3 linked regions of the Homo sapiens genome follow. The protein of the gene in region 1 purifies or fractionates together with the protein of each later gene. This does not show direct contact. Each region holds a gene or a part of one and is shown on either strand. Other genes may lie near its edges.

Region 1 (7,032 bases):
CTTTACTTTAACTATTTTCTGGCCAGGCGTGGTGGTTCTCATGCCAGTATTCCCAGCACTTTGGGAGGCTGAGGCTGGCAGATCACTTGAGGTCAGGAGTTCGAGACCAGCCTGACCATGGTGAAACCCAGTCTCTACTAAAAATACAAAAACTTAGCCAGGCATGGTGGCACACGCCTGTAATCCCAGCTACTTGAGAGGCTGAGACAGGAGAATCGCTTGAACCCAGGAGGAGGAAGTTGCAGTGAGCTGAGATCACGCCACTGCACTCCACCCTAGGCGACAGAGCGAGACCCTGTCTCAAAAAAAAAAAAAAAATATGGCCAGGCGTGGTGGCTCACGCCTGTAATCCCAGCACTTTGGGAGGCTGCGGCAGGTGGATCACCCAAGGTCAGGAGTTCGAGACCAGCCTGGCCAACGTAATGAAACCCCATCTTTACTACAAGTACAAAAATTAGCCGGGTTTGGTGGTGGGTGCCTGTAATCCCAGCTACTCAGGAGGCTGAGGCAGGAGAATCACTTGAACCCAGGAGGCAGAGGTTGCAGTGAGCCGAGATTGTGCCATTGCACTCCAGGTGGATGACAAGAGCGAAACTCTGTCTCAAAAAAAAAAATATATATATATATGTAATATATATATTTTATATAAAAATGTGTAATATATTTTATATAAAAATATGTTATATATGTTATATATATATTTTATATTTTTTTAGACAGACACACACATATAAAATAACTATTTTCTGACGTTGAAATTTTCGACAATTTTCACGTTTTCCTAATTCCACTGAGTAATTTGTGAGTAATTGTTTACTTTTTTTTTTCTTTAAATGTTTTCAGGTATTTGACTGGAATGGTTGACAAAAGGACGCTTGAAAAGTATGAAAGAGAAGCTAAAGAGAAAAACAGAGAAACTTGGTATAGTAAACTTTTATGACACTTATAAATTACTTTTAAGGAGACGATGCCCACTTAGTGCTTTTGGAGCCTGTTAAAATATAAATTGTTGAAGTCTAAAATCGTATCACAACAAAGGAAATTTCCCCTCTCCTCATAATACACAGTAGATGAGTTCCTAATGCTTTAATAACTTACACAGAGAAATTTGGAAACAATCCATATATCTGGTGATAGACTTGTTGAAAATACTATAAACCATCCATTTAATTGGGTGATTTTGCAACCACTGAAAACTTACATTTACATAATTTATAGTAACCATGAATAGAACTTGCGTTGTGGTGGCAGTTGGGGGGAAGCAGGAAACATCCCTGTACTTAAGATATGACCATTATATAAATAAATGCTGGAAATAAAATGGAATGGAATTATTGACAGTGGTTGCCTTTGAATGGTGAGACAGTCAACTTTTTTGTTTTCTAACCTTGTTACTTTTATTTTTAAAAAGTTAGCAAGCCTTACCTCAATGGGATATTGACAGTCATTTTTTTAAAATAAAATTATATTCCTCTAAAATAAGCGGGAGAAATGCTAGTCAGTGTTGTTATAAAAAATTGAGGACATGCTGTGAAGATGATGAGGTAAGCTAAATTAATGCCCACTATTACGGATGGTTTGAATTTATATGAATTTTTGCCTGGCAGTGTGATATTGAAGCAATTTTTAGCAAGTAACCATTGCTCCCACATGGTGCGTTAGTGGCTTTCAGTTTTCAAAAATATCTGAGGACAGTTATTTTTTATTTTATTAAAAAGTTTTAGTCCTGGCACAGTGGCTTAAGCCTGTAATCTCAGCACTTTGGGAGGCCAAGACGGGCGGATCACGAGGTCAGGAGATCGAGACCATCCTGGCTAACATGGTGAAACCCCGTCTCTACTAAAAATACAAAAAATTAGCTGGGCAAGGTGGCAGGCACCTGTAGTCCCAGCTACTTGGAAGGCTGAGGCAGGAGAATGGCGTGAACCCGGGAGGCGGAGGTTGCAGTGAGCCGAGATTGCACCACTGCACTCCAGCCTGGGCAACAGAGTGAGACACCATGTCAAAAAAAAAAAAAGAAAAAAGGAAAACAACTTTTATTGGGCCAGGCGCGGTGACTCAAGCCTGTAATCTCAGCACTTTGGGAGGCAAGGCAGGCAGATCACACCTGAGGTCAGGAGTTCGAGACCACCCTGGCCAATATGGTGAAACCCTGTCTCTACTAAAACTACAAAAATGGCCGGGCACAGTGTCTCACGCCTGTAATCCCAGCGCTTTGGGAGGCCGAGGCAGGCGGATCACCTGAGGTCAGGAGTTCGAGACCAGCCTGACCAACATGGAGAAACCCTGTCTCTACTAAAAATACAAAATTAGCTGGGCATGGTGGCGCATGCTCTAATCCCAGCTACTCGGGGGGCTGAGGCAGGAGAATCACTTGAACCTGGGAGGCGGAGGTTGCGGTGAGCCGAGATGGTGCTGCTGCACTCCAGCCTGGGCAACAAGAGCTAAACTCCATCTCAAAAAATATATATACAAAAAGTAGCCGGGCGTGGTGGTGGGCACCTGTAATCCCAGCTACTTGGGAGGCTGAGGCAGGAGAATAGCTGGAACCTGGGAAGCAGAGGTTGCAGTGAGCCGAGATGGTGCCACTGCACTCCAACCTGGCCAGAGCAAGACTCCCATCTCCAAAAAAAAAAAAAAAAAAAAAAAAAAAGAAGAAGAGGGGTGGGGGTGCCGGGCACGACCTAGGCTCTGTTGCCCAGGCTGGAGTGTAGTGGCTCCATCTCCACTCACTGCAAGCTCCACCTCCTGGGTTCACACCATTCTCCTGCTTCAGCCTCCCAAGTAGCTGGGACTACAGGCACCCGCCACCACGCCTGGCTAATTTTTTGTATTTTTAGTAGAGACAGGGTTTCACCGTGTTAGCTACGATGGTCTCAATCTCCTGACCTTGTGATCTGCCTGCCTCAGCCTCCTAGAATGCTGAAATTACAGGCGTGAGCCACAGCATCCATCCAAAAAAGTTTTATTATTACCCTTTAACTCTCAAGACAGCCATTATTTGTGTTGTATTTTGTGCCATGTGAGTATAAAAATGAAGTAATAAGGGAGCTCATTATCACTTAACACACAGTGATATTGGCATTTGTAGTTAGTCTTTCTGTGTAGTCAACTTGCCATAAAGTTCTAGATGGTATAATTGACTGCGTTTATATAAAAGCTCTAAGGGTTTGAATCAAAATAATACATTCTTTCAGTTTTATTTTATTTATTTATTTTTTTGAGACGGAGTCTCACTGTGTCACCAGGCTGGAGTGCAGTGGCGCGATCTCAGCTCACTGCAACCTCCGCCTCCTGGGTTCAAGCGATTCTCCTGCCTCAGCCTCCCGAGTAGCTGGGACTACAGGCGCCCGCCACCATGCCCAGCTAATTTTTGTATTTTTAGTAGAGATGGGGTCTCACCATGTTGGCCAGGATGGTCTCAATCTCTTGACCTCAGGTGATCCGCCTGCCTTGGCCTCCCAAAGTGCTTGGATTACAAGCATGAGCCACTGCACCTAGCCCTTTTTTTTTTTTTTTGAGAGACAGAGTCTCCCTCTGTTGCCCAGCCTGGAGTGCGATGGCACGATCTTGGCTCACTGCAACCTCTACCTCCCAGCTTCAAGCGATTGTCCTGCCTCAGCTTTCGAAATAGCTGTGACTACAGGTGTGCACCACTATGCCCAACTTTTGTATTTTTAGTAGAGATGAGGTTTCATCATATTAGCCAGGCTAGTCTCGAACTCCTGACCTCAGGTGATCTGCCAGCCTCGGCCTCCCAAAGTGCTGGGATTACAGGCGTGAGCCACTGCGCCCAGCCCTATTCTTTCAATTTCTTTGTTTTCTTTTGAGACGGAGCCTTGCTCTGTCGCCCAGGCTGGAGTGCAATGGCACGGTCTTGGCTCGCTGCAACCTCCTCCTCCCAGGTTCAAGCGATTCTCCTGCCTCAGTCTCCTAAGTACTACAGGTGGGCTCCTCCACACCCAGCTAATTTTTGTATTTTCGGTAGAGACAGGGCTTCACCATGTTGGTCAGGCTGGTGTCGAACCCCTGACCTTGTGATCCGCCGCCTTGGCCTCCCAAAGTGCTCAGATTACAGATGTGAGCCACCGCACCCGGCTCAATTTTCATTTCACCAATCTTGTTCGTGATTTAGGTGTTGTGTGTCATCCATTATATCTTTAATGGTGAAGAATATCCTAAAAACTCTGATGTTCTTAGGAATATTGTTCTTTTTTTAAAAATTATTTCAGGTACTTGTCTTGGGCCTTAGACACAAATCAGGAAGAACGAGACAAGGGTAAAACAGTAGAAGTGGGTCGTGCCTATTTTGAAACCGAAAAGAAGCATTTCACAATTCTAGATGCCCCTGGCCACAAGAGTTTTGTCCCAAATATGATTGGTGGTGCCTCTCAAGCTGATTTGGCTGTGCTGGTAAGAAAGACATTTCCAGTCCATCTGTATATTTGTTAGTAGCCCCGCTTATATCTTTAAATTTGAATTTATCTTCTAAAAGCTCAAATTCAGGTTGCAGTGAAATATAATGATGTACACGGTCACAGTTTTCATCATACTAATCTCTCTTCAAGAAATCTTCAAAATTTGATTTACTTCTGAAAATACGTTTCACCTTTTCTCTCCTGTTGCTATTATCTATTACCATGTCAGAACTTAGTCTCCATTAAATGCCAAGCCCACCGTTAGGCACCATGGGTAAAAAATGAATAGGAAACCATCTGTTTCATACGGTCTTCAGTCATTTTGCGCTTTTCACAATGTACTGGTAGTAGATCACAATTTTTTTTCCTTTGTAGTTACAATAGCTAGAAAGTAAATGTTGGAATTTTAAAATATGCAGGTATACTAGATTTTGGGAATGTGGGGGATTGGAAGCATCTAGACATTGTTTGATTTGTGACATTCAAAAGCAGGTACGTCATAACTCGTTTGCTTCTATTTTCTTGCAAAAAAAAAAAAAAAAACTCGTGATATAACTGAAAGGAAAGATGTTTTACTGCCATAAGGGTATGCCTGAAGGCGAAGGAGTAAACTGTTTCCTTTCTTGGAATTAGGTAATCTCAGCCAGGAAAGGAGAGTTTGAAACTGGATTTGAAAAAGGAGGACAGACAAGAGAACATGCAATGTTGGCAAAGACAGCAGGTGTAAAACACCTAATTGTGCTAATTAATAAGATGGATGATCCAACAGTAAATTGGAGCAATGAGAGGTGAGCGTAGATGTCTGGTATTTTATGTTAGTGGGATTAAGGATGGTTTTGTTATTGTACGACTTTTTCTCTAGGGTTTTTCTAAACCTTAATCTGTTTACTTAGGAAACTAGAGTTCTTGGTTTACATTATAATTGAGTTATTTTGGTTACATTATAATTGCAGATATGAAGAATGTAAGGAGAAACTAGTGCCATTTTTGAAAAAAGTTGGCTTCAATCCCAAAAAGGACATTCACTTTATGCCCTGCTCAGGACTTACTGGAGCAAATCTCAAAGAGCAGTCGGATTTCTGTCCTTGGTACATGTAAGTAACTGTTTTTTCCTTTTTTTAAAAAGGAAAAGGATGTTATTACTTAAATTACTTATAAAGACATATGCTGAGTAACATGTTAACATATGCTTTTGAGCATATATCTTTATAAGTAATTTAAGAAAATATTAAATGTAACCTTGGCTTTAAAAATACTAAGATCTTTGCCCATTTTTAAACTGGGTTGTCATTTTGTTACTGAGTCCTAAGAGTTCTTTTTAATACTGGCTACCAGTCCCTTATCAGCTACAATATGATTATAGCAAGTATTTTCTCCCACTTTATGGATTGCCTTTTTTCACTTCTCGATGGTGTCCTTTGAAGCACAAAAGGTTTTATTTTTGAAGTTTTTTACATTTAGATATGTATTTGATTTTGAGTTAACTTTTGTGTAAGATGTAAGGTCTATGTGTAGGTTTGTTTTGTTTTTGTATATTAATTGTTTACACACAATTTGTTGAAAAGACTATTCTTTTTTCATTGAATTGATTTGGCTCCCTCTTTGAAAATCAAATGACCATAAATACGAGTTTATTCTTGAACTCCGTGTTTCTTTTTTTTGGTTTGTTTTTTTGAAACAGGTTTTCACTCTGTTAACCAGGCTGGAGTGCAGTGGCATGATCTCGGCTCACTGCAACCTCTGCCTCCCAGCTCAAGAGATCCTCCCACCTCAGCCTCCCAAGTCGTAGGGACTGTAGGCACATGCCACCGCACCCGGCTGATTTTTGTATTTTTAGTAGAGACAGATTCACCATGTTGCCCAGGCTGGTGTCGAACTCCTGGGCTCAAGAGATGCACCTGCCTTTCGGCCTCCCAAAGTGCTGGGATTATAGGCATGAGCCACTGCACGCAGCCAATACTGTATGTTTAAAGGGGAAATTATTTTATAGAATCTTGGTTTCATAGCTGGAAAAGTCCATAAAAAGTAATATAGTCAATTTATTACATGTAGGCTATTTGCTATAAAATATTTCTCTAAATTTTAATAAGTTTATGAGGAAGCCTTATACTGAGCAGTTTTATAATAGTTTTCTGTGGAATAAGTGAGATGAAATGGATAATAAAGTGGTTGAATGGGAAGAATACATGAGTAGAATGAAAATATTATTAGAAGCTGTTTATAGTCATGTAACTTAACATTTTGATATTTATGTTGACTTCCTTTAATGGCTTTGTTGTTATGTTCTCAGTGGATTACCGTTTATTCCATATCTGGATAATTTGCCGAACTTCAATAGATCAGTTGATGGACCAATCAGGCTGCCAATTGTGGATAAGTACAAGGTACCCAAAATGTTAAAGAAATTGGGTTTCCTGGGAGGGGAAATCATTGTTGTGCATTTTGTTTCTAGTTTTGAAAACTTTTTTTCTTTTCTTTTCTTTCTTGTTTTTTTTTTGACAGAATCTTGCACTCTGTCCCCCAGGCTGGAGTGCAGTGGCGCGATCTCAGCTCACTGCAAGCTCTGCCTCCTTGGTTCAAGTGATTCTCCTGCCTCAGCCTCCTGAGTAGCTAG
Region 2 (5,292 bases), on another chromosome or scaffold:
CTGTTTGGAAAATTCCCACTGAGTCTGTGAGCCTCTGTTCTGGTAACCTCGACCAGCCTGTCACCAGTATCTCTGGTCCACCAGTGCGGTGTAACTCAAGGGAGCAGCATCTCTCCAGATTGCTGAAGTGAGGGAGGGAGATTATGAGGGAACTGCCCCAAGGACACAAGGATTCATTCTTAGAGTTCCCACATCTTGATTAAAATAAACAGTACAGGAAATAGACTGCAGGCACATCCAGGTGATTAAAAAATTTAACACCAGGCAAAAAAAAAAAAAAAAAAAAAAAAAAAAGCCAGAGGGGAGCTAGGATGCAAACTCTATTATTGGGCCTCAATAAACACTGAAATAGATTCCCTTGTAACCCCACCCTCTAATCTTGGACAATATGGTATCCAATACTGAATGAAAACTTCAGAGATGGTAGGAGGAGGAGGAGCAGGTGGTCAATGACTACAGTAAAAACCACTGGGAGTGCAGAGTATTTGTCAAAGAACTTCAGCATTACAATGAACTTTAAAGATCAGATTTATTTGGAGAAAACAAAAAACCCACAACCCAAAGGATGGGATTTTACATCAAGACATCTCCCAGGTAATAAGTCTACAGATTACAAATCATTTTCATAGAAGATATTTTTGTACAAATTTTACATGTATTCAGGAGCGGGACATTAATCAATCCCTGTTTCTATTTTAATAGGGGGGACAAGGTAGGGGAGAGGGAAAAACAGTTTTGGATATAACTATTTGGAAGGAGAGTAGACATGAAGAGGGCAAACCCTAGCTTTTCATTATCTACAATCAATAGTTTGTTTTTCTTTTTTAAAAAAGAAAGAAAAACCCTTTCAATCTTCAATACTCTTTAAAAGCCCACTTCTTAGCTACTGGCCAATCCACACCAATTATTTAAATTCACTTGGTACACACCTTTGTCCACTGGGTAAATTATATTCATTATGCCCACTGCTGCAGCACGCATAAACCAACACCCCTGCATGGCTGAACAGGGCCTAATCTAGGACTGATGGGAGAAGGGCTTGCAAACCAAGATCAAGGTGTTTCTCCGCTAATACTGTCTACCAAGCTGATCCCTACAAAAATGCATATAAAAGCAGGCAAGTTTAGCTACTGTGTTGCAAGAGAAACCAGGACCTTGTTAAATAGTTCTCTCCATTACCATTTATTCTCTCAAGGGAAGCTTAAAAAAACAACAACAAAACAACACATTGGTCTGGCCACCTCATGAATCCAACAAGCATTAGTGTGGCATTTCAGTGGAGAAGGAAACTTGGGGGGAAAAATCCCATCAAGGTTGTAAGAAAGGCTCCCAATTTAACTGTCCCTGTCCCTATTTATCCATCATCCAAGACCATCCATTATTCTAGAGCACTCTGATCAATAAAAGGGGTCCAAGCATCAGGAGCAGGCAAGGAGAACCAAAAGACATCAAGAAACCGATTTGCTTGAGAAAAGCAGCGATTCTTCCTTTCAGAGTTCTCCATGGCTGAGAAAATGCCCAAGACATCATGTATGTGACTTAGATACTGCTTTTTGGGAGGTTAAGAGTAGCATGAAGAACTTAAGATGATGATAAGAGTCTAAATTTTTAGTTTCAAGGTTTCAATAGAATGTGGATATATTCAAAACTTTCAAAAAGGACAGTGTTTAGAAAGGGTAAAACTAGGACACAGAAAACACTGGGAATTACCACGACCCCCAAGTGCTTCCGGCTCCAGGAAATAACCATTCATGTGTTTGCTGGAGGTCACACAATTTTCCCCTATTACCTGGTGCAAAATGACTCATCACTTCCCAAAAGCTTCTTTTCAAACCACGATTTTCCCATTTATTTTGGTCCAATGCAGTCCCATTCTTTATGGCCTATAGTCTCACTCCCAACTACCCCCCTGGGGGGTTAAAAAAAAAAAAGGAATTCCCTCTAGGCTGGCCCCCAAAACTCAGAATTAAATAAGAGGAGGGGCTGGCAGCCTCCTGGAGACTAGAACAACTTGAGGCTAAATCTACCTTTCCAAGAGTGGAAAATTTATTCAGATAATGTTTGAGAATTCATATATGCCACAATAGGATAAAAACTAAAAGGTAGAAATCTCACACTTTTCCTTCTACCTCCCTCCCCTACTGCCCAACCAGGTTCCAGGCATTATATCACTGTCATTACCATTTCTGCTAAATGGAGACCCCTAGGCACTAATCACACTGGCAACTGCATGGTGACATAACGCACCACAACTTTTCCTCTAAAAAGCTGTAGTCCCTTTCTCTCTGGCTGTATTGGCAATTCTCCAGTTACTTCAATACTTTAAAGGCTGCAGCAGCATGCAAAATAATTTCATTTTTTGTTTTTAAAAAAAGGTAAGAAAGGTCTTCAGGAGATGGTGAGTTTTATTTTGTCTTGTCTGGATAGAGGTTTTGATTTGCTCTCGAATGTTCCAGGGTGGAGAGAAACTAGGAGAAAAGCACAGGATGTAGAGGTCTATTCGGCATAATCTTCTCCCTCATTTTCATCTTCACCATCAACAGAGAGAGCAGCATACTTGCTTGCAGAACTGAACTTCTGTAACACAACGAGAGTGACAGGATAATGAAGGCCCTGAATTATCACATCAAAACCCAAGACACAGGATACTGATCCTTTGGCAATGGGGGATGACAGTCAGATGACACCCACTTGCTTGCTCATCAGCATTGTCCATTGGAGAGGAGCTAGGGAAGAGGGTCAGAGGCACATGCGATCTTACTATAGTCTCATACCACCTCTACACCTTGCAGAAGGGATGAGAACAAAGGAAGACAGAAACCAGGAAAAAGCTAAACTTCTTTCGCTATTTCAGTAAAGACCAATGTCTTATTTCCAAACACTTTGTATTCCAAATGGAAAGAAGTCCAACGGCAAAAAGTTTAGAATACTAAGAATTTTTAATTCTTAGTAAGAATACTTAGAATTCTAAGAATTTTTCTTAGAATGAAAAATTGGGAGCAGCCTTCAACACTTACGGAAGCTGGATTTTCCTCAGGTTTCTTTGGCTCAGGTGCAGATCTGGAGTCTTGATCCTTTTTGCCATCTTTCCTGCAGAGACGTAAGCATAAAACCATGTCTTTAGGAAAGGACTCGCCTAATACAAACATGTGTATGCATGCAGTTTCAAGGCACTGAACAGGCACCTCTAGTCAACAGTCCTTGTTGTCTGGATGATGTATTACTTCTAGATTTTCAGAATCTTAACTGTCTACGTTGGCTGACTTTAGTTTGCTCACAATGAGCGATCTGGCAGTGCTCTGAGAACCAAGAACTTAATTTCTTAATTACACAAACATGTGGATCAGAGGAAAGATGAGAAAGAGAACAAGCATACCTATCTGACTCCTTCCAGTGGTCTCTGTTCCCTCCGTCGCCTGGACCACGGCTAGAGTTCCCAGTTTGGCCTTTTGGGGCATTCATCCCATCTACTTTATTTTCATCTGCTTGGGCAGTAATGTAAACAAATTAAAGGCAAGTAAAAGTATCAATGTCCCTCTCCTAAGATTTCCCTTAAGCTGAAGAAAATTGTGCCCACATGTACTGAGGGAAACTAACCTCACCCCAACCCAGACTTCCTTCCTGAAGCCCTTCTTTCCACATCCTCTACAGCACACAAAAATACAAAAAACAAACAAAATCCACTAAAAAGTTCCATGTAGGGATATGCCATCATGAAAAGCAAGCTGGAAATAAAGATTATGACGCTCTGTAGTGACCTTGGTTAATTTCCTTCCGATTTTTTTCTCCCCGTCAAAGAAATGTTCTACCAGGAAAGGGCAGGGTTTCATACTTTCTCCAAAGAGGCCACTCCTCCCTCTACTGGCAAGAAAAGGTAGATAACCCAATAATTCTTTTTTTTTTGAGACAGAGTCTTGCTCTGTCGCCCAGGCTGGAGTGCAGTGGGGCCATCTTGGCTTACTGCAACCTCCGTCTCCCGGGTTCAAGCAATTCTCCTGCCTCAGCGTCTCCCGAGTAGCTGGGATTACAGGCATGTGCCACCACACCCGGCTAATTTTTTTTGTATTTTTAATAGAGACGGGGTTTCACCATGTTGGTAAGGCTGGTCTCAAACTCCTGCCCTGTGATCTGCCCGCCTTGGCCTCCCAAAGTGCTGGGATTACAGGTGTGAGCCCCTGCGCCTGGCCAACCCAAGAACTCTTAACACGGTATCAGGTGCGAGACACACTGCTCTTCAAAATCTAATTTTGGAGGCCTTTTTATTTAGGCTTCTAGGTGAAAAACCTATTTCCCATACTATGAGCTCACCTTTCCTTCCTGGTCCTTCCTCAGATGGTTGAGCTGGAGCTACTTTTCCCCCACCACTAGAAGGAAAACAGGTAATCACATTCATCAGTTGTTTCAGGGAGAAAACAACCAAGAAACATAATCATCCTCCAAATGCAGTGGGTAAGCTTTATAGAAAACAAAATCATACTCAATGTTATGGAACATTAAAATATGGGAAAGATTACAATGAAAGCAGTAATTTGAACACTAAAGTGCCATATGCTTTCTAATCATCACATCATGCAGGATTAGTATTGCTATTTTCTTTTCTTTTGGAGTCTTAACTCTGTCGCCCAGGCTGGAGTGCAATGGCACATCTCGGCTCACTGCAACCTCCGCTCTCAGGTTCAAGCAATTCTCCTGCCTCAGCCTCCCGAGTAGCTGGGATTACAGGTACCTGCCACCACGCCAGGCTAATAGTGTTGCTATTTTGCTTACAAATGAGAAGACTTAAGAGAAATGAAAGGAAGTTACCCCCTACCATACTGCCAATATGTGGCAAAAGGGAAGCCTCTGACTTACAGTATTTGCAGATTTGTGCGGCATTAGTACTCCCATCATAGCTGATTTCAAGCTATCAAAGTGGTGGAACTCCAGAAAATGGAACAACTAGGTCTTATGAGCCAGTTCCAGCACACTAAGAGACTAAAGCCAGCATAACTTATAAGGTGCTATACAACGCTGGCATCCCGTAGGAGATCTTCCATCATTACATCACAGTATTTTAGAATCTGCAGTTAACCAACTACTGTTTCCAAACTGACTCACCTTGTAGGGGACTGCTGCTCTGTGTCTGAGCTCTGAGATCGAGCAGGAGGGTTAGAACTTCGCTTCACCCAAGCATTCTCCTTTGGTGGAGGGGCTGGCATTACCTTTAGGGGCTGATCAGGTTTGGGAGGTTTAGAAGTTGGAGAGTGGCAATCTTCCTCCTTATTGAGTGTTTCATTTTCTAGAGACTTCTCA
Region 3 (6,507 bases), on another chromosome or scaffold:
CACCATTTGCTATAGTCACAGACCTCCCATTTTCCCTGCTAGGGGAAAACTTGGTTGCAGAATCTGGGGAACTGGATCCGCTGACTCGAATGCAGCATAAACTGACTGCAGGAAATAAGAGGGGACAGGACACACCCCAACCGAGTTCAGGAAGGGAAGGACGGGGCTCAACTAACCAACTGGGATCTGCAGATCTCACCGTATGTCCTTGGGGTGTGCGCCAACCCCACTCTGCCCCAGATTTTCCTGGGCCAGACCCATGGTCTGCTCTGACCACATCAGATCTCTGTTCCCTCTAAGTTAAATGGGGCTAATGTAACAATCATACTGTAACAGAACAGTGTGGGACAGGATCATATTTAACAGTTCTGTGTATCTTGCTAATCTTTGTCAGCTTCAAGTCAAGAAAGAATAAACTATCACTGGAACCAATTCACATCCTAAAGTTACTTCCAGTGAAAACCGGAATTCATAGAGTAAAACTGTGGTCAGAGACAGAGGCAGTTTTATGGAGATTTTTTTTCTTTATTGGGAAACGTAAGACTTGGGTACATCAAATAAAACCAATTTCTGGGGGAAAAAATCAAAACCCACAATAAAAAAAAAGTTAACACTGTCTGGGCCACAGCAGAACCCAAAGAACATATTCGTATAATTGAAAAATTCTAGGTGCTTCATAATTGACCTTTTGATACAAAATGACCTATTAAATTTGCAATTTGTAATCCTTGGTGTTGAGGTCCATAGGACAAGCTAGGAAGTCTTCAAACCTTGAGTTGAATTCCATAAGGGGTTATTTGGCTTTTGAATCCTGTAAAGAAAAGCACCAACACAAATAAATGCATAATCAAATAATTTAGATTCATTAACATATAGTGGATAAAGGAAGGTATTCTAGAAGAGAGTTTCTCAACCTCAGTGCTATTGACACTTTGGACATTCTGTTGGGTCTGTCCTCCTGTGTACTGTACAACATTTAGCAGCATCTCTGGTCTTTACCACTAGATGACAAGGCTCCTGAGGCCCTTGACAAGAGGGTCATGACTATGCCAAGTCAACCCTCCCAACACACCAGCTCTGGTCCTTACCATGTGCTTTTTCCTTAGCTTATTTTACTGTCTCTTCTTTCCCTATCTGGAGACACCTACAACCATCAACCAGTACTAGTTTTATTATTCACTCAAGCTCCTGCAGACAAAGTCCACAGTCCTCATGATAAGAAGTCACCTGCAACACACTCCGTGTAACTAACTGTACTTATTGTATTCCCAGAGCTAAGCAGTGAGCATATATACAACCTCAGGTCAAACCACAAAGACAATGCTCATAGGAACAATGCTCATAGGAACAAAAATGAAAATAGCCACACATACGGTTTTTCCTTGTCTAAGAGGTAGCAGCAGCAACAGCGCCCACCTTCTGGGCAGCTTCTTTCTTGGCATGATGAGCCTGTAGAACTGCTACAGCTTCATCCACCTGCGAGAAATCTTCAGGTGGTCAGTGAATCTAGGAGAGCTACTCCACCCCTCCCCAGTGCCCAGACCTAGTGGTGGACCAAAGCCAACTGTACAGATGATCCCTAGGCTTCTGGTGCTAACTACTTTCCCAAATACCCACTGCAGCCTCCAGTCACAGTCAAGGCATGACGAGAGGGGTCCTGGGGGCAGCAGATCCCACTTTCTGCTGCACCTGGGCATCCAAGTTTGCCCCCAGTCTTCCCAAGCTGAGAACTGAAGCTGCAGGGTCTGAGCCCCAGCTCACCTTGGAGCGGAGAGACTCGGGGGACTCTAACATGTGCAGCAGCTCAGAGTTGTCTATCTCCAGCAGCATTCCCGTGATCTTCCCAGCCAGATTTGAATGCATTGTTTGGATGAGTGGGAACAAGCGTTCTCCTATGGGGAGGATAGTTAATAAAAAAACAAATCAAATCCCAGTAAACAATGGACACTGGTGTCCTAGCTGGCATCAGGCTCTGGGACCCTCTTCTTCTGCAAGCAAGTGGGTCACTCACCCAGCATCTGCTTCTGTTCCTGGGGGGGTGCTGCAGCCAGCATGGAGGCAGTCAGTGGCTCCTGCCCCTGCACATGGACCGCAGGCTGGGGTGCCTGGGAACCAGGAAAGGCAGTGGGTTAGCACTGAGGAAAGGACAACACCTGATGGTGGTTGAGTGCCTGTTCAATATCTGAACATCTGACTATGTGAAAGAGGAGAGGAGGTGGCTGTCCTTGCTCTAAAGGAACTAATTTCAGTCCTTGAAGGATTGAGGGGTGTGTTGAGGAACAGAGTGGTATGGACATAAACACAACCAATTACAATGAAAATGGCATGCTATCAGAAAGCGAAGTGAAACGTAAATAATAAAACAAACCTATAGTGCTAGGCAAGCATTTTCTGACATTTCCTTAATACACCCAAAGTTACTCAAGAATGAAAAGCCTTGATATAAATAAGGGTAAACACTTGTATATAACCTTTTCCTGAAAATTAGTTTTCCTTTAGGGTAAATCTCAGTGCAGATTGGATCAAAGGGAGTAAATATCAACACATTTATAATTACATTCCACATCACCTTAATTCTACCAAATGTTTTTGTATCAAATGCTTAAAAACGGTCAACATGCAACGTCAATGCTAGTCAAAGCCTTGCAAAGAAAAGGTATTTTACATAGCATCAAGTTCTAGGAAATCCCCAACTTAGAGAGTATGAGACAGGACAGTTAAAGAGTAATCTCCTAAGCAGCTTATGGGCCTGAAGGCTTAGGGTGACACCTCCACAGCAAATTGCTATTAGGCTCTGAAACAAACTAGTTGCATCTAGAGCACAGGTCTAGAGACAGCAAGTTACAGCTTAGAAAATCTAAGCTCTAGGTTCAACCCCTTCACCTCCTACACACACTTTACATCTTTGAAGCTGAACATCCGATCTGTAAGTTGAAGTTATTTCCTGCATTAATGTACCAATCATCTTGCAGAGCAGCCAAGGATCCAATAGGTCATTGGATGCGGAAGTGACCTGGAGGCTCAAACAGCTGAATGAGCACATTATTTCGTACAAACAGAAGAGGAAGCACTGGCTGCCCGCTCTGAGGCATTTCTGAGTGAACTGGCATCAGGCAGAGCACTTTTAAGCCCCTTCTTTCCCACTAGTGAGCCCCTGAAGGGCAGGGACAGTGAATCAGAACATAGCGTCATAACACAGAGCAGGCATTTAATACCTGTTGAAGGAATCAAAAGCACAGCTTCTTTTACATCAAGTGGAAATGGGGGAAATCCTTTTAAGCATTCTGTCTGGTGAACCTCACCTGCAGAGGCTGTATGGCAGGATGAGGGCTGCGGACACTGGAGGCGTATTTGTAGGGGGCAACAGCCCGGGGAGCAGCAGCAGCAACAGCAGCGCGTGGCGCTAAGTTCTGCACAGCTGTGGGAACGCCTTAGGGAAAGAACAAATACAATTAAAGCCCATCAGTCTGGGCAAAGACCCGTCAAATCCCATCTTTCCCCCTTCTGTGTGCATCCAATACCACCTCCAGACTGGCAGCTGTCAGTCAGCCCTTGCTGGGCGGCACCAGCCCCACCAAAGTCCATAGCCAAGCGGTCCGGGCACTCAGACCCTACAACAGACCAGCAAATGCACATCAGTGTTGGCGGCAGATGTCCAACTGGCCACGTCCCACGGAAGGAGAAATTTCAAAGCACGTTTACGCAACACATTGCACAGGGGGCCACTACTACTTTCGAGGATGAGCCAAAGGATAACATACAACTCTTTCCACATCTTGGAATACAAGACATATTCTGTATACACTGTTTCCTTGTATTCCTCACCCCACCCAAAAGAACAAGCTGCCTCTGTGGTCATCCAGCTAGCAAACTTCTACAACTAACCTTTTTCACATAGGTCACCGATGAGCAAAGAATGTTAAAAGCAACTGACACACCTAGAACTCATACTGTTTCTCTGCTCCTGAAGTGGCCACCTAAGCACACAGCTAAGATTACAGAACCAGGACTCGATAAATTCGAGCCCAACAAACTGACCAACCCAGGACAGAGCCTAGTCATCCTGACTCCCTCCTCCCCAGGCCACACTTCTAAAGGCCAGTTTGCTCACCGACTCTCTGAGTGGTAGTAGGGAGGCCACGAGAGGCCGGAGCATTACCAGTTGGAGCCAGATGGCGAAGAGTTGGACGAGGCCCAGACTGGCGTATAGCACTTGGCATTCCTTGGAAGCCTGGTGAAGAGAAAAATTGCACATCATTGAGAAGTGATGTGGACCAGAACCTAGGCTGTGCCTCAGAGTGGGGAAGAAGGAAAGGCAGGGGAGACCAGGACAGGTATATCCTGGGCTGTCAATTACTGTTCCCCACCACCTACCTTGAGGTCTCCCACCTTGCTGCCAGCGTGGATTAGGCCTCATCTGTGCTAACTGGTTAGGTGTATAATATGGAGGCCTTCCCTGAGCCTGTAAGACAGAAGAATACCCAAACACCCCCTTAAGGACTGAACCCATCCTAGAGAAGTATCTCATCTCATCTCACTAACCAGGACCTAAGCTAATTATTTAAATGTTCTTTCTATTCAAGAGCTGAGGGGTCAGCTAATGGGGACTGTTTTATGCTACCACTGCCACTGTGGGTGTGTGTTTGTGACCATGGGTAAGTCCTTCATTTTTACTTGAAGGGTCCTTATTGTGACATTCTAGAACTCTAATAACGAAAAATCCCTCTCCCCAACCACTGCAGAATACTGCCAGCCGGCAGGTTCCCAAGAGCTGTGACCAAACAGCACACCCACCTGTGGGACTGCTGGCACAAAGTAGCCACCCGCTGCAGGCTGGAACTGATTTAAGATGGCATTGGCAGGAAGTGCTCTCATTCCAGCCACTCGTTGCATATACTGGTTGGTCAGGTGAGCCTTTCTCTCTTCCTTCCTCTGGGCCAGGGCAACATATAGTGGCTTGGAGCCCACAATGCGTCCATTCATCTCAGTGACTGCTTTGGTTGCTTCTTCAGGAGATGAGAAGCAGACGAAGCCAAACCCTTTGCTTCTTCCATCCTCCAGCATTACCTACAAAATGAGACCAGCTACTTAAGAAATAAGGTGTCCCTGGCTGGGTGTGATGGCTTGTGCCTGTAATCCCAGCACTTTGGAAGGCTGAGGTGGGAGGGCTGCTTGAGCTCAGGAGGTTGAGACCAGCTTGAGCAATGTAGTGAGACCTCATCTCAAAAAAACAAAGGGCCAGGCGCAGTGGCTCATGCCTGTAATCCCAGCACTTTGGGAGGCCGAGGTGGGTGGATCACGAGGTCAGGAATTCAAGACCATCCTGACCAACATGGTGCAACCCCGTCTCTACTAAAAATACAAAAATCAGCTGGGCGTGGTGGCACACACCTGTAATCCTAGCTACTCAGGAGGCTGAGGCAGGAGAACCGCTTCAACCCGGGAGACAGAGATTGCAGTGAGCCGAGATCGCGCCACTGCACTCCAGCCTGGGCGACAGAGCGAGACTCCATCTCCAAAACAAAACAAAACAAAACAAAACAAAACAAAACAAAAACACCAACCAACCAAACCAACAAAAAAAACAAAACAAACCTACAAATAGGAAAAAAAAGGATGTCCCTGGGTGGGGAGGGAACTATTCAGAAGAACCAGAAAGCCTGGGTTCTGCTGCAGTCACTGAGTCTAGGTCAGGGTTCTGGCACAGGATTTACCCCAGACCAACTAAGTCACAACCTCTAAGGTATCTAGGTGTTTTCTTTGAGTCCCCAGGTGATGCTAAAGTTCTGAAACACTATGATATGGCTAATAATAAAACCAGGAACTCAAAGATGTTTCCTGATACCTGGTGGATAGCTACTCCGGGTAACCACAAAACATCTTGAGAGTAGTACTGAGCAATTTATTTTCATATCTCATATGCTTCAAGACCTCGGTGGACAAACTCTAACAAGCTCTTACCAACGTCAGGATAACACTTTTGGAATACCACGTGTGGACAGGAGTCCTAAAATGTTCAGGTAACCAATGACTGCCACCATTAATTCAATGAGATGACCAGCTCAGAGATAGGCAGCCTAGATTCTAGTCTCACTTGCCTTCCTGAGGCTCAATTTCCAAGAAATACTCCAAACAGCTACAAAACCACAGGTCTACTGGTTCAGGCAGTCTTTTCCCACATTAAGTTCATCATTCACAAATGGCATTCTTCCTAATAGACAAGGTTATTCACTGTCTTCTCTGGTGTGACTGTCATTGTTTTATGTCTTAGTTAATGGCCCAGAGAGCCTCCTGAAGTGGAGGATAGGGAAGTAAAGAAGTGCATCACTCCATAACTCTCTACCAATGAGATGGGCCAGTAAGGTATGTGAATAAAAATGCCACACCATCATAATGAAAATGGGGACAATTCAAGGTATGGCTCTTCTGCTCTCTTAACAAATGCCAACTTGACTACTAGGCAGATAAGCAAGGATAGAAGATCACTCCTTACACTGATGAGGGCCA

The links. The genes of interacting proteins can lie anywhere in the genome.
Region 2: the proteins of GSPT1 (region 1) and EIF4B fractionate together in Homo sapiens (co-fractionation; 2 studies listed by BioGRID). This does not show direct contact.
Region 3: the proteins of GSPT1 (region 1) and PABPC4 purify together in Homo sapiens (affinity purification with mass spectrometry; 2 studies listed by BioGRID and IntAct, with this or other methods). This does not show direct contact.

Annotation. Positions count from the first base shown.
Region 1 is NC_000016.10:11,884,951-11,891,982, reverse strand, and holds part of GSPT1 (eukaryotic peptide chain release factor GTP-binding subunit ERF3A), read left to right. Parts: intron 1-843; coding exon 844-921; intron 922-4,232; coding exon 4,233-4,413; intron 4,414-5,051; coding exon 5,052-5,206; intron 5,207-5,371; coding exon 5,372-5,512; intron 5,513-6,708; coding exon 6,709-6,802; intron 6,803-7,032. UniProt on the Homo sapiens protein: GTPase component of the eRF1-eRF3-GTP ternary complex, a ternary complex that mediates translation termination in response to the termination codons UAA, UAG and UGA.
Region 2 is NC_000012.12:53,037,428-53,042,719, reverse strand, and holds the end of EIF4B (eukaryotic translation initiation factor 4B), read right to left. Parts: coding exon 5,098-5,292; intron 4,365-5,097; coding exon 4,309-4,364; intron 3,483-4,308; coding exon 3,377-3,482; intron 3,091-3,376; coding exon 3,018-3,090; intron 2,578-3,017; coding exon 2,497-2,577; 3' UTR 505-2,496; downstream 1-504. UniProt on the Homo sapiens protein: Required for the binding of mRNA to ribosomes. Functions in close association with EIF4-F and EIF4-A. Binds near the 5'-terminal cap of mRNA in presence of EIF-4F and ATP.
Region 3 is NC_000001.11:39,560,312-39,566,818, forward strand, and holds the end of PABPC4 (polyadenylate-binding protein 4), read right to left. Parts: intron 5,068-6,507; coding exon 4,795-5,067; exon of another isoform or gene 4,759-4,794; intron 4,463-4,758; coding exon 4,375-4,462; intron 4,232-4,374; coding exon 4,112-4,231; intron 3,612-4,111; coding exon 3,525-3,611; intron 3,431-3,524; coding exon 3,303-3,430; intron 2,106-3,302; coding exon 2,012-2,105; intron 1,893-2,011; coding exon 1,762-1,892; intron 1,477-1,761; coding exon 1,387-1,476; 3' UTR 1,374-1,386; intron 812-1,373; 3' UTR 505-811; downstream 1-504.